Homo sapiens: one gene and its partners. The protein of the gene in region 2 purifies or fractionates together with the protein of the main gene of each other region. This does not show direct contact. Each region holds a gene or a part of one and is shown on either strand. Other genes may lie near its edges.

Region 1 (7,192 bases), on a different chromosome or scaffold from region 2:
TCAGAGAATGGCTATACATCCCAACACTCTTGCTCGGGCTTTACTCTCCACAGCACTTATGACCTGAAATTATATTAGTTACTTGCCTGTATCCCCAGCTCCATGGAAACAAACTCTTATACCAATATCTGCAACATAGTAACTTAATAAATATTTCTGTGCTATTTACATAAACAAATTATCTTAATAAAGGGTAATGAAAATTGCATGTACACATGCATGGAAAGCAGAGATTCAAAAGCTTGGCAATCAAAGTAAAAACTTATTTCCCTACCGAGGCCATGTGAAGGATAATTTATTAAAAGAGGACACCTTTCTGGATGAATTACTTAAGCAAGGTACCTACCCATTCCTATTCCTCTATGCTGCCTCTAATGGGACTTCTGGTCTATAGAAAATGAGGAAGATGTATAGGGTTCGCTCAATATCCTGAGATAAAACTACAAATACATTTTCCCACAGAAACAATATCACAAATAGCAGTCAGAAAACTACTCACTAGTAACAGAAAAATGCTGGCCTGAAAAAAATATATAGCTCCAAATGAGAATTTATCCATTGGAATATAGGCTGTGGTGCAGAAGCTGCTTATTTTTCTAAACGGCAATTGACAGATCCATCAGTATACCGCAGAAGCTGCTCCCATTCCCTATGCAGAACATACTTGCTGAGGGGAGACCTAGACTAAAGTCGAAGAGGTGGACCATAACCACTTATGGTGATTTACCCACTCATTTATCCAACAAAGTCGGATGTTACAGTGGTGGCAAAGGACAAGCAGGCAAAACCCATCATCATAAGCATGTTTTACTACACTGTTAGGTGACATTATATTTTGTTCTATTTACAGCCAATTCAAAAAACCTTAAAGCATTTCACTATGCTTTATATAAATTATAAATGCTAAATGAGTGGTATAGCAATAAGCTACCTTTAGAAATTGCTGGGGAAACCACGGTCTGTGATGAGGTGGGACACTATGGGGCAGGGCAGAGTGATGATGGAATGGATTTGGATTGAACTACCATCAAGAGTCTACGGCCATACCACCCTGAACGTGCCTGCTTTTGTCTGAAATACCATGGGAAAAAAAATAGGATTGGGTCTTAAATGTCTCCTAGTTCTGCAGGCTTTCTCATATACTTTTTCCACTTCTATAACATCAACTGTACTTATATACTGATGAATCAGAAAGAAATGAAGGTTAGGTGAAGGGCAGGGAAGTGTAACCTGATATCAAAGGAACACCTGGCCTCATTGTGAGAAGGGGGTCATAAACAGGCCAACTCCCCTGTTCATATTAGTAGACTGCAAATTCAGCTCCTGCTTTGTTCTTCCTAACTAACCCCTGGATTACTATTCTTCCAGCCAGCCAACATACAGTACTTTTACTCTGCAAAGCCTGGGACAGGTACTGACTTTAACTTCCCCCTATTCTAAGTGACAGTCCATTTCTTTTTCAGGCACCAGTGCATTATCTTTGGGCATTAGTTCAACCCAACCTCCTCTCCATTGGCAGTGTCTTCACTCTCCCTTTTATCTCTGGGGAATCCTGCATTTATACCTACTCCAAACTCCACCTAGGTTTCCTATTAAAATAATCCCTTTCAAAGATTCCCAACACGCAGCTTTTTAAAGTCAATTCCAACAGAAACATTTACTTAGGACAGTCACACTTCAGTCACACTTCGGGAGGCACAGAATCACCTGGGGGAGCTAGTTAAAATACAACTGGTCCCACCCCCACAGTTTCTGATTCGTTAAGTCTGGACTGAAGCCCCGTAATTTGCATAATTTGTAAGTTCTCAGGTGATGCTGAAGCTCCAGGTCCTGGGCAACGCTTTGAGAACAGCTGATTTTGGAATATTTACATTTTACAAGTCATCACAACCTAAAACAGCTGTTGCTCCATCCCAGTGGTAGCTCTTAATCCCTACTTTTTAGTAAGAGGTCTGTGATTCTTAAGTACCGGTAGGGAAGAAGAAATAAGCTGGAGTTTGGGATCATTAAAATTTTGAAGTGTGGGGGTAACGCTGGAAAGACGTCAAGGCTAATTAGGAAGAACAGGAGACGGAGAAAAGAAAGAAGTCTTACACATTTTAGCATTCATAAGAAATTTCTCCAACACATCTTACTTTGATGTGTCTTAGATAAAGCAGTATCACCATGAAAACTGCCTATTCTTCCCAGAGCACTCTCCCAACAGCACTGCCCAGCGCTCCGCAAAACTCGGCCAATCGGTGTCAAAACAGTCCTGCCAACCCGACAGGAGGAGGCGGTGGGCAGCGTGCTCCACAGCAACACCTAAAAAGGGCTGGGTTTGGAAAAAAGCTGAACTCAGATTTGAACTGTAAGTAAAATTCCCACCTGCTCCCCAAGTCCGCGCACTTAAGGAAAATAAATCACACCCTGAAAACACTAGCACAGGTTGCAAAAACTGCTTCTTGCGGACCAAGTAGGCAGAACAAACTGCCCTGGAGAAGGGAGACGACACGAAAAGGTGCAAAGGTGGCCAACAGGTGCGCGAGCTGTTCGGCAAAGATCCTGGGAGCCCTGCTCCACTGGACCGGGGGGCAGCGGGGTCGGAGAGCGGGACCAGCCGTGAGGCGTCAGCCCCAGCCCGGTGGGGGTGAGGACGAGGGGCGCCGGGGAGAGGGAGCCCGGCCAGCCGGCAGGGGCGCCCCTTCGGCGGAAGAGGGTCGCCGAAGACCCTCTCCTCACCTGGTTGAGCTCGTTCTCGGCTGCAATCCGCAACTTCGGGTCGATGGTGCCCTTCAGCGCCTGGATGATCCGGTTGAGGTCCATCTCCCCGGGTGGGGGCTCCGCGGCCCCCGGAACAGTAGGCCGGACTGCAGCTTTAGTTTTCTTTTGACCCTCTCAGCCTCCTCTTCCGCGACCCCTGGATTACCTCACACCCCACCCCCCGCCACCGTCGCCACCTGCGGCCACTTGCTGCGCCACTCTGACTCCGCGCCCCCTGTCCTCCCTTTTTCCCCCCCACAACTCGCTCTCCATTCACCGTTTTACGACAGCCGGTGGGAGGCGGGAGAAGGAAGAAGAGGAAGCAGAGCTTCCTTTACGGCGGCCTCTTCCCCCGGGCGTGATGCTATGACCGCCTCCCGTCGGCGGCCGCCATGCTGCTGTACGGAAAACGGCCTAGGCTTCTTTCCCGGAAAGGAACCCGCGCTCCCGAACTCAGGCAGGCGGCCGCTATGCTTCCGTACGGTAAACAGCCTCCCGCCTCTTCCCAGGTGAGGAAACTTGAGCTGGCCGGGAGTCTGCTTACAGCTGCTTCCAAATTAAGCATATCTGGATGGTGTGACACTTTTTGTTAGTCCGAGAACTGTATGGGCATCGCAACTGGGCCTGTTCCAAGATAGACTTGTTGGGACCTTCAAATCATGTACCTTACAGGAGGACAGGGTTCCTCCGTGTGTGGGAGTCATCGTTCATTCATTCATTCGCTTTCACTGAACATTTGTTAAACATATATTTTTGAACCAGAGTACTAGGATTTTTAGGTACCACATTATAACAAGATGAATTCCATGCAAGTTAATGTGAAGGAATTCACAACCTGATAGATGAGACAAATATAAACAAAAAAAATTTACAGTGTAGAAATGATAGGGGAGTGCTGGGAAGGGAAGAGCGTGGTCCCTTTAAATGATAGGGATGGGCGAAGTGAAGTGCTGGGTAGAGGAGTGTGTGGTCCCTTGCTAGGGCTCCACGCCCACCGACCTAGGTGAGGACTGACACTCCTGCCTTCCAGCCCAAATGTTGCATTTCCCAAGACCACCCTGGCCTGCCACTCCCCCATACTGTGCCTATGAAAACCCCAGACCCTAGCAGGCAGGTACACAGGCAGCCAGACGTCCAGAGGAGCATAAGGGTGGAAGAAGAGGAGCTCGCTGGCACATCCGCAGGCCATTCACGGGCAGAACGATGCGGAGGTTGGCCTGGGCAGTCGGAAAAGAGCCCGGGCCGCCAAGCGGCCTAACTCCAGAGGAAAACCATTTCCCTTCTGGGTCCCTCATCTGCTGAGGGCTACTTCCACTCAATAAAACTTTGCACTCATTCTCCAAGCCCACGTGTGATCCAATTCTTCTGGTACACCAAGGCAAGAACCCAGGATACAGAAAGCTCGCTGTCTGTGCGACAAGGTAGAGGGTCTAATTGAGCTGGTTAACACAAGCCCCCTAAAGGCAAACTGAAAGAGCATCCTGTAACACACACCCACTGGGGCTTCAGGAGCTGTAAACATTCACCCCCAGACTCTGTCAAGGGGTCGGAGCCCCACAGCCTGCCGGTCTGTATGCTTCTCTAGAGGTCTGAGCAGCGGGGCACTGAAGAAGCGAGCCACACCCCCAATGCACGCCCTGTGAGGGGGACAAGGGAACCTCTCCCATTTCAGAAAGACAAAGGTCACAGAAACTGAAAACTACATCCCTGAGAGTTTTATGAAAAATTTTCAGACCTTCTCAAAAATGTAGTGAAAGGTAAGCAGAAAAGTTATACTGTTTCTATCCACTGTGGCCATATCTGGCGCCACAATTTCAATGGCATGAAAATATCAAGGAGCTGGTTCTTCCTGAGGTTAACCCAGAAGAGAGGGTTCTAATTACATTTAATAAAGATGATGATGTGGGCAAAACACAGCTGAGGGGCTGTGATCTTTTCAGGAGCAGATAATTAAGATAGATTGGGTCAATTAACTGAGTTCAATTGAGAGAGTAGAAAACATGTGGCTGAAAACTTGGTGGCTTGAAAGCTTCCCCCTCAGTTGGATGCAAAAGTGCTTCACAGTGAATTTAACATGTCTAATTGCTTCCAGTATTGCCCCTCTTTAATCCATTATTCACACTATCATCAGAAGAAAGTTTCTGAAAAGTTAATATTACTATGTCTCTTCCTTGATTTCTCATCAATTTCAAAATAAAATATAAACTTAGCACTCCAGAGTCTTATGAACACTATTTCACTAAACCACTCTCTTGGACATCATGAATGTCTAAAAAATTTTTTATCTCTGAAAATCTTAACTCCAATATCCTCTTTTATAATTAGAACTAATTCTTCCATTTCTCTCTTCCTCAAAAATTCTAAGCTTGTTTTCCAATTCAATCACTACTTCAGTTCTTAGTCTATCCATTACTCACTACACATCATTCTCTGCTATTAAACCCCCAATTCAGCTTCTTAACTCTAGCCTTGACCCACTGTGCAAACTGATATCAGATGTATTCTTTAATCAGATGCAACCATCCTATTCCTATTCCTTGCCTTTAATCAGCAACATCTTCCATTCCCTCAGTGGCGTTTCAACTCTCAGGACTCTTCTCAAGCTCCCTACGCCTTCTCACCAAACCCTGCAAAGATGAGCAAAACCCTCAGGCTCAACTCAACAACAAATTCATCTCCGCTTATCCCTCTTCATCTCCTCTGCAGTCTGAACCCCATTCTCTCCCATCTCCTCCAGGACCCTGTTCCATAAATCTCTCCTCTCTTAAATACATTTTTTCATTAAAATAAATTTTAGTCATTATAATGTGCTCATTGTTGACAATGTGTAAGTTTTTTTCGTACTTTTTCAGCCTCTTTTCCTCCACTGATTCAACCTCAGCCTAAAAACATTTCCCCCAGCAAAAAAATAATCTTCAGTAATGCTAATTATTGCTCATTCTTTTCCACTTCATTCCAAAGAATGGTCTTCATTCACTGTGTCAGCTTACTTCCCATTCATGCTTCAACCACCTATCCCCAGGCTTCTCCCCCTCATTTCCCACTAAAACTGCCAAGCAAAGATGAACACCGACCTCTTTAGGGGGTATACCAACTGCAAGAGACATTTTTAGTTCTCAACTTAAATTTTCTCTCTCTCGCGCGCGCGCGCGCGCGCGTGTGTGTGTGTGTGTGTGTGTGTGTGTGTGTGTGTATGTATAGAGAGAGAGAGAGATTGAGAGATTGGGGGAGGGCGTCTCACTTCCATTGCCTAGGTTGTAGTGCAGAGGCATGATCACTGCTCACTGCAGCCTCGACCTCCTGGGCTCAGGTAATTCTCCCACTTCAGCCTCCCAAGTAGCCGGGACTACAGGCACATGCCACCACGCCCAGCTTTATTTTTAGTAGAGACAGGGTTTTACCACATTGCTCAGGCTGGTCTCAAACTGCTAGGCACAAGCAATCTGGCAGCCTCAGCCTCCCAAATTAGGATTACAGGTGTGAGCCACCACACCCAGCCTCTAATATCCGGTATCATATTTCATACTATTTTTAAATTATCTCTTTTCTTGTTTTCTCTTACAGAATACATTCCTAACCCTTTGATTACTCAATCGCCCAAGTCTTCGACGCTTCTCAGGACTCTGTCCTCAGCCATCTTCTCTTTCTCATCCACCCATTTTTCAGTAATTTCATCCACTTACATAACTTTAACCATCAACTAAACAAAGATAGCTTACAAAACTAGTTGTAAGATCTCTTCCCTTAAACTAAATATATCCAAATGCCTATACATTTCTACCAATATCTATCCCTCAAATCACTTAAGGCACATGTCTAAAACTGAACTCAGCACTGAAGATGATAGATTGGAGAAGGGAGAGACTTAAGGTAGTTATTCCAATAACATAAAAGGAGAGATCAAAAACGGTGACACCACCAAACGCTGGTGAGGATGTACAGAAACTGGATCACTTATATGTTGGTGGTAACATGTACAGTGATACAGCCTTTCTGAAAACAATTGGGCAGTTTCTTTAAAAAACTGAATATGCAACTACCATATGACACAGCAATTGCACTCCAGAGCATTGGTCCTAGACAAATGAAGACTTGTGCTCATAAAAAAAACCTTGTGAGTGTATATGCAGCTTTATTCATCATAACCCAAATCTGGAAACAATCCAGATATCCTTCAGTGGGTGAATGGTTAAATAAACATGGTACATCTATACCATGGGATACTACTGAGCAACAAAAAAAAAGATACATGTAGCAACCTTGATGAATCTTCTGAGAATTACGCTGAGGGAAAGAAGCCAATCCCAAAGGTTGCATCTTGTCAAATGCCATTTATATAACATTCTTAAAATTTAAAAAATATAGAAGGATCCATGGTTGCTAAGGGTTAAAGTGGAGGTGGTGGCAAGGGGGAAGTGGGTGTGACTGTAGAAGGGCAATATGAGGAATT
Region 2 (7,597 bases):
AAGTGCCCATCAATAGATGAATGAATTTTAAAAATGTGGTATAATACAGTGGCCTACTATTCAGCCATAAAAAGTAAAATCCTGTCATTTGTAGCCACCTGGATGAGCCTGGACGACATTATATTAAGTGAAATAAGCTAGGCACAGAGAGACAAATACTGTGTAATCTCACTTATATATGCAATCTTACAAAGTTGATTTTATTGAAGTAGAGAGTAGGAGAGTGGTTACCGGAGGTATTGGGGTGGAGGTTTGTCACCTGGTACAAAGTCAGGGTTAGATAGGAAGAACGATTTCCAGTGTTCCATTGTACAGTAGGGCGGCTATAGTTAACAATAATATATTATATATTTCAATAGAGCTAGAAGACAGGATTTTCAAAGTTCTCACCAGATAGAAATGATAAATGTCTAAGGTGATGGATATGCTAATTTTCCTAATTTGATCATTACACATTGTATACATATATCAAAACATGACACTGTATCTCATAAATATATATGTGTCAATTAAAAATTTTTTAAATTAAAAATTATATACAGTGATTAACATTTAGCCTTTCAAATCAAATTTAACTATATAATAACTTAACACACATACTCTCTCTCTCTCCATTATATATAATATATATATAAAATATATAATATATAAATATTTTATATATATATAATATTTCTACTGGAAAACAGCATATTTTCCTGAAATGCAATACTTAACCTATATCATAAATCTTCCATATTCTGAGTGCTTTAGGATACCAATTTTATCTAGATGTAATTTTAGGTACATTTACAGATCGAGTACATTCACAGATCTAGAAGAGCTGTTGTCGCCATGCTTGACTGGTCTAAATCCTTTTCCTCAAAGGATTTTGAGGAAAACACGCTTTTCCTCAAAGAAAAAGGGCAAAGGAGAGATTCCTCAAACCTGTAATTCTTTATAGCACTATTTAGCCAGAAATTTATAATTCATTTTTAAAAATATTTTTGAGGTTGTCAATGTAAGAACATAGTCAGAGAGTGAATGTTTATTTTCTGCTGTTTCTGACTCCCGGACAAACTCACAAGTTATATTCTTTTGAATCCTATCTGCCTATTTCTGAGTGGATAGAACAGTTTCGTCAGTCACAAAGTCCTAGTATCTCAGTTTGTTTATTGAATGACAGAAGAATGCTTTACACTTACATTGAGAAAAAGATGTGTGTAAAAAGCAGCTAAATACTGTCAATAAACACTGAATGTATAATAAGATCGCTGCACAATCTGTGGCTCAGATACAGTGGCCTTTTGTCCCTGAATAAACTTGTGATGTGGTGTATTATTCAATGAACGTGAACATGCTTCTTGTTTAACAGAATTTCTGTTAAATTATTGCCAAACCATTTCCTCTTCCGGAAACAGATTCTTGATTTATGGAGTAATGACTTCCTTTTGTTCATCTAATAAGAGATTCAAGAGTCATGAATGTCACTTCGTTTTCTACCTGTCTTTAGAGAAAATGCAGCTGTCAGATCCCTGTGGAGGATGTGCACATTGCCATCCCTGCTTGCTGTCCCTCTAGCCAGAGGGACATGATGGCTGCCCTTTGTGGAAGAAGAACTTGCCCATTTTATGCATGGCACGGCTCACTGCCGCAACAAACATCGGCACTGGTTTAAAAATGGCTGCGTGCAGGCTGGCCAGTGACTCTCTTTTGAGATGTTCAGGCATGAAAGTCTCTGCCCAACACAGTGACGAAGGCAGAGGGAATTCCCTAAAGCAGTCAAATCATTCCCTGTCTTCAGAATTTTCTCTGAGGGATATAGAGGGGAACGACTCACCAGAAGAGGGAGAATGTCCATGGATGGAGAGAAGCAGTGGCTACAGGAAACCCTGAGTGAAACGCAGAGAGAAATTGCTTTCTAGCACTGCGTTGCATCCTTTCATTTCTGCATGTATTTAAATCATAAGAATACACAAACACATCATCTAAAGGATCTCAATGACTTTCAGTAAGAAGGCCTTCATACAATTCCCATACGAATTCCATTTTTTATGGCAAGGTTACTCCGTATGACTCACCCTAATTGTTCTGGAACAAGAACTGACAGAAAAGAATTGGACTGTCATTCCTGATGCAAAAGGGTTTACAAACATCCTTCTAAAAGAAGACTTCCACCTGAGAAGGTTGATGGAGGACCTCTTGTCTACGTACCTGTTAGACTGGGGCACGGTCACCTTATTGTGGGAGTTATAGGTAAGAAAAATTAGAGAGCAGCTTATTTTGGGGGCCAGGATAATAACAAGTTATTTTTAAAAGGTCTTGGAAACTTGCAGATGCAAAGGGAAAAAAACAAAAAACAAAAAACAATCCTAATGGTAAAAACAAGTAAGTCTGACTGCGTCATTTTGTAGTAAGACAATGAGGAAATGGGAACTCGTCAGAGGGTAACTGGGTGGTGCCTGTAAAAGTGAAGATGTGCTTCTCCCTCAGCAGGCATTTGCTGGGAAACCCTTGCAGACGTTACAAGCACAGTTGTAGAAAATATCTATTAGAGCACTGTTTGTAACTGAAAAATGTTTCATTCATACTTTGAATGTAAAGAATAAAAGTGAATGAAAAAATGGAAGCATTGCACCGTGCTTTTGATTTACATTTCCCTGATCATTTAGTACAACCACCATGGAAAACAGTGTGGAGATTCCTTAAAGAACTAAAAGTAGAACTACCATTTGATCCAGCAATCCCACTACTGGGTATCTACCCAGAGGAAAAGAAGTTGTTATACGAAAAACATACTTGCACACACATGTTTATGGCAGCACAATTCACAACTGCAAAAATATAGAACCAGCCCAAATGCCCGTCAATCAATGAGTGGATAAAGAAACTATGATACATATATATGATGGAATACTACTCACCCATAAAAAGGAATGAATTAATGATGTTCGCATCAGCCTGGATGGGATTGGAGACAATTATTCTAAGTGAAGTAACTCAGGAATGGAAAACCAAACATTGTATGTTCTAACTCACAGTGGGAGCTAAATTACAAAGATGCAAAGACATAGGAATGATCTAATGGACTTTAGGGACTCAGGGGAAAGGGTGGGAGGGGGGTGAGGAATAAAAGACTAAAAAATGGGTTCAATGTGTACACTGCTCGGGTGATGGGTGCACCAAAATCTCACAAATCACCACTAAATAACTTAACCATGTAATCAAATACCACCTATTCCCCAAAAACCTGTGGAAATAATTTTTTTTTAAATGGAAGCATCCAAAATGTAATTTGTTTCCACATTCTTGTAAGCCTCATTATGTATCCCAGGGACAGTTAATATCGTCATACGAATTCACAGGTGAGGAAATGGAATCACAGAGAGATTATGTACTTTGCATAAGGAGAGCGAGGGTGAGGCAGGATTTGCAGTCTAGAAGCCTGGGTCTGGAGTTCTCCACTTTGCACTATATCATTTCTGTAAACTTCTTACTTAAGACTGTGTGGAAATGTAGAGTGAGACAGAACTAAAGCTCACTATTCTTAGTCCACAGGGGAGTAGTGACTACCCAGGGCTTGGTAAGTGCTCAGTAACGTTTGTTGAAAGATGAATCAATATTTCAATGCTGGGGCAAAGCAGTGAAAAACTGGGGAATGTCCAGGAACCAGCCATCAGGATAAGGCAGGACTAGAATGAATGCAACAGTCCTCACAGGTCCACCAAGTCAACAACAGAAAAATCCAAAGCTAAGGTGGCTCTTGTGTGATCAAGGACCTCTTGTACACCGACCTGTTAGGCTGTGGCACAGTCAACATGGGAGTTGTAGACAAGCTACTTGAGAGTGGTTAATGGTAGCAGTCAGGCATTTGGAGCTGGAGGCAAGGCTGATTCTCCTCAACTAGTATCATATTGAGCGGGGACTTAAAGCCTCAGAAGTCTGAGCAGAAAAGCTGAGACCAGGCTCCTTGGGACAGGCTGTTCATATGCATGATTGAGTTTCAGTGATGAGTCCCAGAAGGAAAAAGTTTATGCATGTTTTCCTTAAAAATATATTCACTTATATTTAGAGAATCCTTCAGATATCTAACCTAAATACGTCTGTAACATTTACTCTCATTCTTTTTATGACATTATTAGTATAATAATATGAATAATTCCCAGTGGACTTACTTCCACACTTCCTTCAAGGATTCTCCATTTTATTTCATAATTGAAGACTGTTAATAAATCACTCTCTAGCTAAGAACAATTCAATGCTAAAACACTTAGCTTATCTGACCTTCACATTAATTATTTTTATGACAGCAGCAGGAACTTTCAGCTGCTTTTCCCCCTTCCTTATGAAGCCATGTGGTCCCAAGCAGACAGAGTTCCCTTGCTACACTTAAGGGTGGGCTTCTCAGACCTGAGCATATCTTAAAAGCTTTCCCTTGACTGTGCCAATCCAAACTCCAAGTTTCCTCAGCAGATTTAAGGGGTTTTAAATCTACTTGAGCATGAGTGTTATGAGAAGACTTTGAAATTCTTACAAAAACTGAAAGTGAAATGAGGAAGACAGATTGAGCAATCCAATCGGAGGGTAAATGCCAGCAAACCTACTGTACAGTAGGGGTAGAGATGCAGAAAGGCAGAAAGGAGAAAATTCAGGATAACTCTCCTGAGGGGTGAGCCAAGCCCTGCCATGTAGTGCACGCAGGACATCAACAAACACAGATAACAGGAAATGATCCATTCCCTGTGGTCACTTATTCTAAAGGCCCCAACCTTCAAAGTTCAAGTAGTGATATGGATGACTCCACAGAAAGGGAGCAGTCACGCCTTACTTCTTGCCTTAAGAAAAGAGAAGAAATGAAACTGAAGGAGTGTGTTTCCATCCTCCCACGGAAGGAAAGCCCCTCTGTCCGATCCTCCAAAGACGGAAAGCTGCTGGCTGCAACCTTGCTGCTGGCACTGCTGTCTTGCTGCCTCACGGTGGTGTCTTTCTACCAGGTGGCCGCCCTGCAAGGGGACCTGGCCAGCCTCCGGGCAGAGCTGCAGGGCCACCACGCGGAGAAGCTGCCAGCAGGAGCAGGAGCCCCCAAGGCCGGCCTGGAGGAAGCTCCAGCTGTCACCGCGGGACTGAAAGTGAGTTTGCAGCAGCTGCAAGACGCAGGCAAGATCCTGCCTACACTGCTGCCTCTCCCTCGCCTCAGCTGTCTTTCTAATAACTTGAAGTTTTTCTGTTCATAGATCTTTGAACCACCAGCTCCAGGAGAAGGCAACTCCAGTCAGAACAGCAGAAATAAGCGTGCCGTTCAGGGTCCAGAAGAAACAGGTATGTTTTGGGCACAGACACTTTTAGGAGTCAGGGATTAGAGAATAACATCCAGTCTGGGGGAGCTGGAGGTGAGTATCCCCTCTATGAACCTATTAAATAGAGACTATGAAATTTGCCATCCAAAGCAGACATTGCTTTAGAGCAAAGCCCCAGCGCTGGCAAATGTAACAGGCTGCATGGGTGTGCTTTTTCCTCCAATGAGCAGATCGTGTGACTGGAAGCATTTCTCTGTGCGTGTGTAAGTATTTATCTGTGCATTAAGCATAGAGGAGATAAAAGGGCCATATGTGTTTCCTCAGGTAGATAATGCCCTCCCATGTGAGAAGCATTATTCATCACTCCAGAAAAATAAAAAAAAGCATTACATGTTAGAATTAGACTTTGCTTACTACCTGGGTCATAGAAAGTTAAAGACATCTGTTTTCTGAATGTACATTACATGTTGTGAAACCAGGTGAAGGTTGTAATGAAAGGCCCTGTATGTTGTACTTTAATTTTGTTTATTTGTTAAAAAGGTTATTTTACACACACACACACACACACGCACAGACACACACACAGATTTTAAAGCTTCTCTTTAAGGTACGCTTTTCCAGGGGATCCATGCATTTATCGTCTTCTTATAATCGTCCTTTACTGATTTCTGACTTTCTTCATGTTCTGCTCATTCCACGGAACTTTACAGAGTTGGTGGGGCCTACCAAAATGATCGATTCTAGTTCTTTCATTTGAAGGTGAAAAAAAGAATCTTTGTATACATTTATTAAAGTTATAATATAACAAATTCTTAATATTATTGTCCTTTTATTAAATATATTGAAAGAATATTTTTTGAGCACCTGGAACGTATCGTACAGCTATAGACCAGAATAGGCATTTTCAAACATACTATTTCGTTTAACCTTCACAGTGACGCTATGAAGTCCACAGAATACATGCAATAATTTATGTATATTTTCACTTCTGAAGAGAATTGCATAAGAAATGTAGTGAGAGATAGACCAGGGACCCTTCTATCACACACACACACACACACACACACACACACACACACACACACACGCATGAGGTACCCTGACTATAAACTTATTTTTTGACTATATGCTTTATTCATAAAAAATTGTTTCTTATTTTATAAAACCATAATTTTTGGTATCTGGTTATTGTATCTTTATACTAGTTATCAGGAATAACTGGGCTTAAACATTTTTAAATTAGGAAACATGCACATTTTTATTATTTTAACACATCAATTATTTTTATCGTCTGCATTTTATAGTCTATATTTCCTACATAATTGAAAATAATACGGAATATATACTATAATATTTTTTGTTTTGACTTATACAATAAGGATTTTTCCTATTTCTAAGTATTTTTCATATATCTGTATTAATTTATCTAACAATTGTTTTAAATGGTTATTTCCATTCTCTTTGCTATAATACAACATGCAAAAGTTTTGCACAGAACTCTTTTATTTCTGTGAAATTATATATTCAATATAAAATTCATATAGTGGAATATCTGAGCTAGGGAGAAGAAACATCTTCATCACCCTTGCTTCCGACTGCCATATTGTTTTCAAAATGAGTTATACATGCAATCAAAAATGTGGTGTACCGGTTCTCCACATTCTTGCTTGCATGTTATTTTTAAAGTGTATTTTGACTAGTTTAGTAGTTGTAAAACAATATCTCACATTTATTTTGATGTGTTGCTTGTTTACTAATATGAATAAACTTTCTGCATATTTTGATTATTTATAATTTTATCTTTTGCTAATTTTTATTTATAACTGTCTCCACTTGTCTGTCCCATGTTTTTATAATTTTGGATAAGCTCTTCCTAATTAGACATATTGATAATTGATCAAAATTTTGATGTAAATATTTTAACAGTTTTGCTTCTTTTTTTACTTGAACATTTTGCATTTCTCTATAGTAAAGTGATAATCTTTAAAAAATTTTCCCTAATATTAAAGCTAAAAATACATTTGTTCATGTTTTCTTAAGTAGTTGACTCCCTGCCACTTTGACTTTTTCATAGTTGAGTGTTTTGTTTTAACTCATTAGTCCTTCTGTTGTTTATTTTGATGAATCATCTCACATTGGCTTTAACTTCCCCCTCTCTCTTTTTTCCTTTCTAACTGGTATCTCAACCAAATGTATTAAATAGTTCTTTTTAACTCCTTGGTGTTGAAAAGCTTACTGTGTTTTATTAAGTTCCTCATAAGAGTTGAATCTATTTGAGACTCTTTTTTTTAATTGATTATTCTATTTATATGCTTTAAAGA
Region 3 (3,424 bases), on a different chromosome or scaffold from region 2:
TAATTTTCATGAGTCTCCACAGACTTTGTGCTATAGCAATAATAGAGGTACTTCATTATAACACATTTTTCATATACTGTCCTCAAATACATTGAACTAAAATTTGCCTTCTTTTAACTTGCTTGAAATTTCCTTATTTTCCCTTACTCATTATTAGTGCTTACAAAATAAATTAAGTTTTAATCTTGCTTGGGTTCCTTTTTCTGTGGCAGTGATAACTGGTACCAAGATGGCTAGAACAAGTAGGAGATACATGTGTTGAAAGGATTGTTGTGTTGAAGACAAAGGATTTAGTTAGCCTAGAAACTAGATTAAAAACAAAAAGCAACTGATAATAAATCCTGATAATGAATTATACTATCTTCAAGGACAGAGAAAAGTGACAGTTTCAGCTAGGACGAACAGGAGGTGTCAGACTGCTGAAGCCGACTCTGAAAGGTATGTCATGCATGTCTAGAATATATGGAGGCCTATCTTCACTTTTTATTTCTACAAGTAGAAAAAAACTAATTTTCTTGCGAATGAGAGAGAATATATAACAAGATAGTGAAAACTATAAATAGCTGTCTTAGGTATATAGTCTAAAATTCCATCATCAAGAGCATTTGACTTCTTACGGCGTGTTTGCTTTTGCCTATTAGCTGGCATGGTCTTTAGTACTATCTTTAATATGTTGTTTCAATTTTTAATTACATGATGTGACTCCTCTTTGATCTTCAGTTAGCAAACTCTTGATTTTGATAATATTTGGGTTCTCTACACTTACATACTGATAGAATAATTCTGTCTATAATTTGGGTATATTGTGTGGTAGAGTGTTTTATTTTTGGCTTCTGTCAGTCAAGCCACTGTTAGAGCTGAAAGTTGGTAGCTGTCTTGTATTCATTTGCAAAATTGTATTGTGTGTATTTTCAGTACATAGTTTTACACTGTTGATTAAATTTGTCTTTTTTGGGGGGAAACTTGTTTTTTACTATGTTTTTGGAATTTATTGCTTAAATCAAGAGAGAGAACTTAATTTTTTTGTCACTTCTTGAGTTTCAAAGAAATCTCTTTTGGACAGTTATGGTCCTCGTTTAATTACAAGCTTCATTACAAGTTTGTGGCTTTTTTTCCTGTATAACACCAGGTTCTGTTATAGTATATAAAATCATTAGCTAGATTTTCCCTGATTCACTTTGCTAGATAGCCAAGTCAGTGTTTTTTTGACATTGAGATTTTAGTTTTAAGCTAAGTCAATGGAATCAGGCTATCAATTAAACACTGATAGAATGTGAGTCAGAAACAAAAAAGTTTTATTTATAAATAAACTGGTTTTAAAGCTTGTATCTAAATTCGTGTATTTTCAACATCTATTTAGTGATCATGAAGTTCCAGAACCAGAATCAGAAATGAAGATGAGACTACCAAGACGAGCCAAAACCGCAGCACTAGAAAAAAGTAAACTTAACCTTGCCCAATTTCTCAATGAAGATCTAAGTTAGGAAAGACGATGGAGGTGGAATCCTTTAAGATTATGTCCAGTTATTTGCTTTAATAAAGAAGAAGTTACCCTTGTCAAAATCAGAACAAACCTGATGTCTTTCTGAAGATTTTCTGCTGTGCGCTTCCACGTTACTTTGGCCTGTATTAAAGCAGTAGAGCAGCATCAGTTATTATAGTCCAGAAAAAGTGTGCATCAGTCAGTCACACAGATTTATCACAATCTGAGGTGGGCCTAGGAATCTCATTTTTAAATAGTCTCTCCAAGTGATTCTTATGAACTCTTTATGTTTAAAATCATGTCATTATGGAAAACTTACAAGTGTAACTAGCTAGTAGCTTGCATTTGAGAAGCTTATGACTTAGATGGGCAGAATCAACAAAGATGAAACCGCCTGAGGACACATTTAACAAGTAACATTTCTAGGGAAAATGAAGGAAGTACCACAAACTGGCTAGAAAGGAGCTTATCAATCACCAGTGAGGAAGACCAGTATAACGTTCAACAACAGTTATTTTGACAAAAACTTATTTTGTGATTCCTACAGTGAAAACATTTTTGGTGATATCTGCCTGGGAAATCTCTCTTCCTAAAGTATTTGTATATGGGAGTCCTTGTTTGTGAATGTTTCCTGGATTAGGGAGGTGTCAACATAAATGTATTATTAACCATGAAGCTGCTCGCTATATTTTTGGCATAACAAAATAATATTTATTTACTGTGGATAATAATTCTAGTGGGAATATAATGTGACAGGAACTTCTCTTTATATACGCTACCAATTTATGAGCACTATTCACTGTCAATTTCATTTCTTGTCTTTTGAAATTGACACTTGGCCTGACTTACGAAACTTGTACTATATGAAATTGGTCCTCTTTTCTGCAATACCCAACGAAACACCTTTTCTCTTTATTATTCAGAAATGTCCTAACATGGATCTGTTTGTTTTAATAATTGTGCTTTTTTTAGGCTTATCATCTACTAGAGGCCATTTACTTAAGGTGAAATTTTAAGATGGAGCTAAAGTAAGATCACTGGTTTTTAGAACCAAATTGCTATACATATGTGCCTCATAGAACTTATAAAAGGAGTCAAAGTTTCAAAGCAAGATAGTTATTAAGCAAAAGGAAAAATGGTAATGATAGAAAGTCAGTTAAAAATAGATGATTGTTCTTCATTCTGTTTGTTGGCTCTGTGTTCTCCTGTGCTTCAGATTCCTTATGTGTTGTTGTTTTAAAGACAATTTGCAGGGGGTTGGGAGAAGGACTGAAAAGGTACATTAAGTGTGCTGTAAGGAAAAGTCTTAGAAACATAATAAGCTAAAATCCCATTCACACATGGCCAGGCTATCCAAAAAGAAAGGAGCCATGTTCTCATGTGGTTTACCATACCAAAGCTTGCTTTCTCTGGCATGGGAAAAATAAATTTAAGCACCAAACCTTTAGTATTCTGAGTATTCAGTTTTTAGACATAGTCATGTAGCCATTGCTGAAACTGTGCTTTGCACTATTAAAGGTAGGGAATGTCCTGCTTTTAAAAGTCATCCCTTTAACTTTAAAATAAAAGGCTAAGGTACAATAAAACAGATGTAAATCCATTTACCATTTTTCATTCAAAACTGGTAACTTACAGAAACCACATAGTATTTTTCTCTATCAAGAGGCACAGATTTGCTGAACAGTAAACATGCAATTGTGCCATTGCTCTTAAAGCCCACAGACTTAGATTTAAAATACAGAGAAAGAACTGATAAGCTCACATTTTCCTGTGAATGGGAAACATGCTACTTGACAAAAAGCTATGATCAACTTTTTTTCTTCTGTACATATATAACGTTGAAGGAGATTTACTTCTAAGAGATACCTTTGCCTTTTCTTTCACCAATTTGCTTCGAGGTAGTTGGTATCCACCTGTTTTACAACTGCTCATGGGTCAGGT
Region 4 (7,037 bases), on a different chromosome or scaffold from region 2:
TTTAAATTACATAAAATATGGTAAGACAGAAACCACAGTTAATGTTGAGTAACAGCCTATAGCTAAATGATAATATAACAGGAACTTTGTAACCACTATACAGGTTGCATCACAAATAGTAGTAGTGAATTAACGTAACAAGGAGTGACTATGTACTTTATTCTGTTGTAAGGAATATAAGAAGACTTTTATATCTGAGAATACTTCTAGCAATTGCATTTTCCCAGAACATTTTACACAAAAGAGCTCACCTACCGTACTTGTTTGGCAGCTTCAAGTATACAGGGCACAAGCCGAAACACTGGCTGCTCTTCAGACTCTTCCTGGGGTTGGTCCAGAGGCTGAGCAGCCCCATTTCTGACCCATTCTAACATTAGTTTCTCATCCAAATCAAAGAGCTTGTCCACAACCTCCCCCACCTTCACCAGCAAGTCAACTGCAGAGAATAAAACAGATATTGAAATGAAAAACAAACTGCTAAAAGCAATAGGGTTAAGCAAAATTCCTAAAGCTATTCTAAGAAAACCAAATCTTGCCAAAGCAGTACTTATTCTAAAGGGTGATTTACTTATCTTTTATGTTTAAATTTGCTTATCTTTCCTCATTTTTAAATGAGGAATTTATCAGTGTCCCAGGAGTTTAAGAAATTTTGTATCTTCAATCAAAAAACTTTCTCAAAAAAACAAACAAAAAGCTGGACATGGTGGCTTACACCTATACTCCCAACACTTTTGGGAGCCCAAGGCTGGATGACTGCTTGAACACACGAGTTGGAGACCAGCCTGGGCAAGAAAGCGAGACCCCGTCTCTACAAAAAATTTTAAAATGAGCTGAGCATGGCGGTGCATGACTATAGTCCCAGCTATTGGGGAGATTAACAGAAGGATACCTTGAGATCAGGAGTTTGAGGCTGTAGTAGGCTATGATCACACTACTGCACTCCAACCTGGGTGACAGAGCAAGATTCTGTCTCAAACAAACTTCATTACCTTGCACTCAAGGCTTTTTTTAAAAAGGTGACTTCTAGAAATAGTTACATGGTTTCCTAAAAATTAGATACAATTTAAAACATTTTTTTTCTAGAGTACATGATGACTTACCATTTGTTGAACTTGACATAATGAAGCAAATGCTATCATAAATAGCTGGATGTTCCTGGATCCTTTCAACCCAAACACTGGCCACTTCTGCCTGGGAAAGGCAAGTAAGCAACAACCTACATGGTAAACGTGGGTTGAATTTCTACTTTTCAAAAAAAAAAAAAAAACAGTAAAGGAAATTCGAAAATAAAAAATTAACTTTTTTTTCTTATCTACTCTTATGAGTAACCTTATAGAATTCATAAAAGGAAAAGCATACCTGCTTGTTTCCAGCAGAGTAGGTGGGTCTGAATCATACAAACAGTGCAATAACACCTGCCTACAAAAACAAAGAAGTTAACCGATATGCCTCACTTCTCGCATTTAAAATATCAGAGTTTTCATTTAATTTTTTGAACATCTTTATTGTGAAATACAGCATATATTCAGAAAAGCTCAAAAGATACAAATCTATAGTTAATAAATAATTATAAAGCAAACACTCGTGTTTCCAAGAAACAGAACAGAGCTGCATCTTTGTAGTCACCATGTGTCCATTCCAAATCACAATTCTCTTTCCCACCTAGAAATGATGACCATTCTGATTTTTCCAGCAATCATTTCCTTACTTTGCACTATAGTTTTATTATTTTATATATTTTGGTGTTGCTTTATACTGCAGGTAAAAGGATTAAGAGGACATGCTGAATAAATAGACATAATCTGGGAGGTTATTTGGATTCATGAAGACAGTCAAGGAGGGGAGACAACATATGAAATAAATTATACTTATTGAGTCTTCATTTATTTGCTGAAAATTATACATGTAAGATCTACCCATGTTGTTTCTTTAGCTGTTATTCTTTGACAGACTGCTGCAGAGCACTCCATTGTGTGAAAATAACACAATTTATTTTTCCAGACTACTGTTGATGGACATTTCTGTTGATTCCAATTTGGGGCTATTTCAAGCAATCCTCCTACAATATTTGTTAAGAGTTATCCTGATGCACACGTGCACAGTTTCTCTTACCATATATGCCCACTATGAGCTGGTCACAGCACATGCATATGTTCCAACGTGACCAGATAATGCCCAACTAAAGTGGTTCAACAAATTTATATCCCATCAGCAATATAAATTGCACCACACTAATATTAAGACAAGCATTTAACTGAATTTATAACATTTGTTAACATTTCTCATTTTTGGATTTTTGATAGAGAACATTAGAGACCAAACATAATCTTAAGTCATTTGTTCCATGGATGATGGTAAATTACTGAGGAATAAATACTCTGAACTAGGATCTTAAAGTCCCTCCACAACTAGGAGTTCTCTCTTTCTGAGAAACCCAGGTACTTGAATCCTGTGATAAAACCCTCATGGCCCCAGCTCTGACAAAAACTGCCTAGAACAGTTTTCTTAACCTATTTTGGGTACAAATTTCTTTGAGATTCTGATTAAAAGCCATGAACCCTTTGCCTAGAAAACTAATACACTCACAAAATTCAGCATATAATTTCGGGGTGTTCTCCGAACACAGTAACCACTGGGGTTTCCTCCATTAAAACACCTTCTGCCCAGAACTTTACACATGGAGAAGAGAACGAGCCTCGAAGCAGATATCTGAAAGTCTTTTCATCAGAGAGGCAACCCTTTATCTTCCAGTTGTTGGCAAGTCTTACACTCTAAGTCAGAGCTCTCAGGATGACATTATTCAACAAATCTAGTTTCTGTAGACTCCAGCTGAGTCATTGGATTCCCTGCCCCTAAACTGTTTTGGATTCCAGTTGGCTGCCCCATCTCCAAGTTTTGGCCCACTGGTTCTTCCCCTATCTGGCTTATTGCCACCAGCTGACAATTCAGGTTCCTTTGCTACTGAAGAAAACAGGCTTAAATCCTGAATCATTTCAGTATCTCCTGAAGAAGCCCCTAGCTATCATCAACACACAATGAAGTTCCCACAGAGTGTTCATCAAGACAAAGAAAGGACTGTCTTTCAGATTTGCTACTTTTCCTATGTATTAGAATTTCCTTAAGGATATAAATGAATATATTAAAAAACATAATTATATAGTAAGACTTACCCAAGATTTTTATCACTGCTGATGGACACACATATCTCCTGGAAACAGGCCATATTACCTAAAATTCCCACACAGATTTCCTGCCAAATCAAATTTTACAAGTCACAATGGCTCTGAGACGAAAGACGTAAACAAAAATATCAACTTGAACAAAAACTTTCGCTGAGCCAAGTTTTGGGGCAAGGCGGAGGGGAGGCAGGATAAAGAAATACATATACTGCCTGTACCCTAACCTTGACAAGCTTACAGTATTTGAGAAGGGATGAAAAACGTAAGAACAAGAAAGGGCAAAGGCAGGAGCTATGCGAGAAGAACTTCTATCGATAAAATGAGTTTTAAATGATTGATAGGAATGAGATATGCAAACAAAAAGACAGACATTCAAATAAGGGGAAAGTATCAGCAAAGGCAGGAAGGGAATCATGTACATGGCGAATACTGTAGACAATAAAGTACTCTGGTTGTGGCACAAAGTGGGTGAACAGCATGAGGTAAATACTGCAGGTATAAAGGACTGAGATTAAGGGCTCTGAATGCCGTGCTGAAGAATTAGACTTAATCTGGGAAGTTATTTGGAATCATGAAGATGCTCAAGGAGGGGAGACAACATACTGAAACAGTATCTTAGGAAGATTACTCTGGTGGCGAAATGCATAATGTATTAGTGTAGTCCCTCTTTATCCATGGTTTCAGTTACCCATGGTCAACCTTGGTATAAAAGTACTAAATAGAAAATTCTAGAAATAAACAATTCATGTTTTAAATTGCATGCCTTTCTGAGCAGCACGATGAAATCTTGCACCGTCTCACCCAGGATGTGAATCATTCTTTTGTTCAACATATCCACACTGTATGTGCTGCCTGCCCATTAGTTACTTAGTAGCCATCTTGGCTATCAGATCGACCATCGGGATATCTCACAGGGCTTGTGTTCATGTCACCCTTATTTTACTTAATAATGACCCCAAAGCACAAGAGTAGTGATGCTGGCAATTTGGATATGCCAAGGAGCCGCCATTAAGTGCTTTCTTTACATGAAAAGGTAAAAGTTCTTGACTTCATAAGAAAAACAAACAAAAATGTATGCTGAGGTTGCTTAGGATCTCTAAGAACAAATCTATCCATGAAACTGTGAAGAAGGAAAAGGAAATTTGTGCATATTATAAATAGGGTTCAGTACTATCCTCGGTTTTAGGCATTGGGGGCCTTGGAATGCAACCCCCAAGGATAAGGGGAGACTAGTGTATAGGGAAAAGAAGTTGAAAAGAACTTAAGAATCTATCTCAGTAATAGTTAATTAATATGTAATAACAGTTTATTACCACTCACGGTGGCCAGGCATTACTCTAAGCATTTTCTGTGTATAATTTCATATAATAACTTAGGTGATAGGTACTAATAGTATCCCCATTTTTTCAGATGAGGAAACTAAGGCACAGAGAAGTTAAGCTACTTGCCTAAGATCTTAAGATCTCCAACTAGAACACGGCAGAGCTCCAGAGCTTGAGCATTTAACCACTATTCCAAACTGCACCTCAGTTATCAAGATGCAAGAGGAGGAGGGCCCTCAGGCATGGAAAAGGATGAAGCTGAGGAAGACTCTCAAGGTGAAAGCAAAATAATCCAGTGTGAGGATAAAGGAGAAAGCAGTTGAACTTGACTCCTAGCTTTCAAGTTGCCTCATTTCCCCATCAGTGATATTGGTCCCGTTGACAGGAAAACTAAAAAAGAAAGTGCATAAAAGGCTACAATGAGTTCAGATGGTACAGTGTTTCCAACCTTGCTGGAACATAAGAATCACTCAGGGAGCTTGTTAAAAATACAGATTTCCAAATCTCATCTCAGATCTACTGAATCATAATTTCCAGGGTAGAGCCTGGAAAGCTATTGTTTACCCAGCATATACCAGGTGACTTTTATGATTAGATAAGTGTGACCATAAATCACTGAGGACATACAGAATTCAGGGTTAGAGAGTACAGCTGACCCTTGAACACAGGTTTGAATGTGTGGGTCCACTCATAGGTGGATTTTTTCTAACCAAACTTGGACTGAAAATACAGTGTCCTCAAGATGCAAAACCTGCACAATATGCAGAGCTGACTTTTCATACACACAGGTTCCACAGAGCTGACTGCTAAATTGAGTATGTGTGGATTTCAGTATGGGGGAATGTCTTGCAACCATCCCCCATGTATACCAAGGGACAACTGTAGAGCGTGCAAGCAGAGAATGCCTGAACAAAGTTGGAGATGTGACATCAGTTATCAGAAGGGAAGTCGAGGCTTTGCTCCTACAGGCAGAGTTGCAACTTAAAGGTGTAAAGAACACATAAGTTCACTAGGAAAATGAATATAATGAGAACAAAGGATCAGGGCCTACACCTTAGAAAAAGTCCATATTCGGGACAGTATAAAAAAGGAAGAAAGAAAAAAGCCAATGAAAGGTGAGAGACGAGTGACTGAAGAGGTCAGAGACGACAGTGAGGTGACACAGGAGCTATAGAAATGGAATTTCAATAAAAAGTGGGTGGTCAAATGTTGGGAAAAGATTAAGAGTGAGTAGGGGCAGAAAAAAACCACATACATTTCCCTTATAAACTAAAGAGGGAATAACTGAACTTCCAATCAAAGATCAAGTTTTTCTTGGCTGTTCACTGGAATCACCTGGGGAACTTTAAAAGCTGCCCAGAGTCTCACACTTGGAGATTCTGCTTTAACTCATCTAGGGTATGGCCTGACCAAGATTTTCAAAAGTTCCCTAGGGTAAAGCTTCTCAGAGTGTGGCAATGCACCAGAGCACCAGCATCACCTGGGAACATATTAGGAATCCTGGACCTACTGGACTAGAAACTCTGGAGGGAGGCTCGGCAATTAGTGATGCGGGGACATGCTTAAGTTTGAGAGTCCCTGTCCCAGGTGATTCTAACATGCAGCCAAGGCTGAGAATCACTGTGGCAGCAGACGGTGGCCAGCGGATATAATACAACAATATGACTAATTCCTAAAAGGTGCCATTCCTGACATAAGCTTATTTCTTTATATACTAGTAGTGAGTAAATATATTTAAGACAGAAAAACTCAGTATAAAAATAGCATAATCATCAAATCTTATATTAATATAAGGAATCAAGGAAAAAACGGTTAATCAGGCCCTAATTCAGAGAGAACATTCTACTTAAATAAGAATTCTAATTCAACATTCAATTTGTAAAAATACACTATGGAATTCTCCATTTTATAATCTGAAAGAGAGGAAATACAGTACAGTGGTTATACTGAAGTCAGGCCTAGGCTGAAATCTCAGCTCCATTCTTTCCTAGCTGTGTGACCCTGAACACATATCTTCACCCAAGATTTAGTTCTTTGAAAGTATACCTCATAGTAGTAAGACCAGGTATTCAGTAAACAGCAGTTTTTCATAATTATAATTATTGAACAGATATTTACTAATCCATGATATGCATAGCACATGGCAATTTAATTGGCAATAAAGCACAGTACACTGCACAGTATATAAAGGCCTCTCCTTTAGTCTTTATCTATTGTTCTTGGCAGTTTACTAACAGCAATGACTACTGAAAGCTTACTTACTTACTTGGGAAGGTGTGGAAGGAAAAGTACCACTGTGAATTAACAGATGCAAATACTGAGAGGGGACAGAAGGCACACAAAGGGAGGCACGGAGACAGCATGAGACAGGGAGTAGAAAGGTCTGGCTAAATCAGAAGGGTTACCTGGCTATCCAGATTTTATGCTGGAAAGATGAGTTAGGTTCAGAGAGTAGAGGTCTTAAGCAGCAGGCTGAGTTTAGAATGGTTTTCAAGCAATGGTGGATTTTGTCAGTAAAAAAGAGAAATCAACTGAA

Evidence for each region.
Region 1: the proteins of TNFSF13B (region 2) and IPO8 purify together in Homo sapiens (affinity purification with mass spectrometry; 4 studies listed by BioGRID and IntAct, with this or other methods). This does not show direct contact.
Region 3: the proteins of TNFSF13B (region 2) and NCAPG purify together in Homo sapiens (affinity purification with mass spectrometry; 4 studies listed by BioGRID and IntAct, with this or other methods). This does not show direct contact.
Region 4: the proteins of TNFSF13B (region 2) and SAAL1 purify together in Homo sapiens (affinity purification with mass spectrometry; 4 studies listed by BioGRID and IntAct, with this or other methods). This does not show direct contact.

The regions. Positions count from the first base shown.
Region 1 is NC_000012.12:30,692,843-30,700,034, forward strand, and holds the start of IPO8 (importin-8), read right to left. Parts: upstream 3,028-7,192; 5' UTR 2,806-3,027; coding exon 2,722-2,805; intron 2,486-2,721; exon of another isoform or gene 2,169-2,485; coding exon of another isoform or gene 2,136-2,168; intron 1-2,135. UniProt on the Homo sapiens protein: Involved in nuclear protein import, either by acting as autonomous nuclear transport receptor or as an adapter-like protein in association with the importin-beta subunit KPNB1.
Region 2 is NC_000013.11:108,265,127-108,272,723, forward strand, and holds the start of TNFSF13B (tumor necrosis factor ligand superfamily member 13B), read left to right. Parts: upstream 1-4,591; 5' UTR 4,592-4,769; coding exon 4,770-5,108; intron 5,109-5,213; coding exon 5,214-5,298; intron 5,299-7,597. UniProt on the Homo sapiens protein: Cytokine that binds to TNFRSF13B/TACI and TNFRSF17/BCMA. TNFSF13/APRIL binds to the same 2 receptors. Together, they form a 2 ligands -2 receptors pathway involved in the stimulation of B- and T-cell function and the regulation of humoral immunity.
Region 3 is NC_000004.12:17,841,942-17,845,365, forward strand, and holds the end of NCAPG (condensin complex subunit 3), read left to right. Parts: exon of another isoform or gene 1-368; coding exon 369-438; exon of another isoform or gene 439-1,360; coding exon 1,361-1,484; 3' UTR 1,485-2,924; downstream 2,925-3,424. UniProt on the Homo sapiens protein: Regulatory subunit of the condensin complex, a complex required for conversion of interphase chromatin into mitotic-like condense chromosomes.
Region 4 is NC_000011.10:18,089,075-18,096,111, forward strand, and holds part of SAAL1 (protein SAAL1), read right to left. Parts: intron 3,251-7,037; coding exon 3,171-3,250; intron 1,420-3,170; coding exon 1,360-1,419; intron 1,217-1,359; coding exon 1,101-1,216; intron 437-1,100; coding exon 256-436; intron 1-255. UniProt on the Homo sapiens protein: Plays a role in promoting the proliferation of synovial fibroblasts in response to pro-inflammatory stimuli.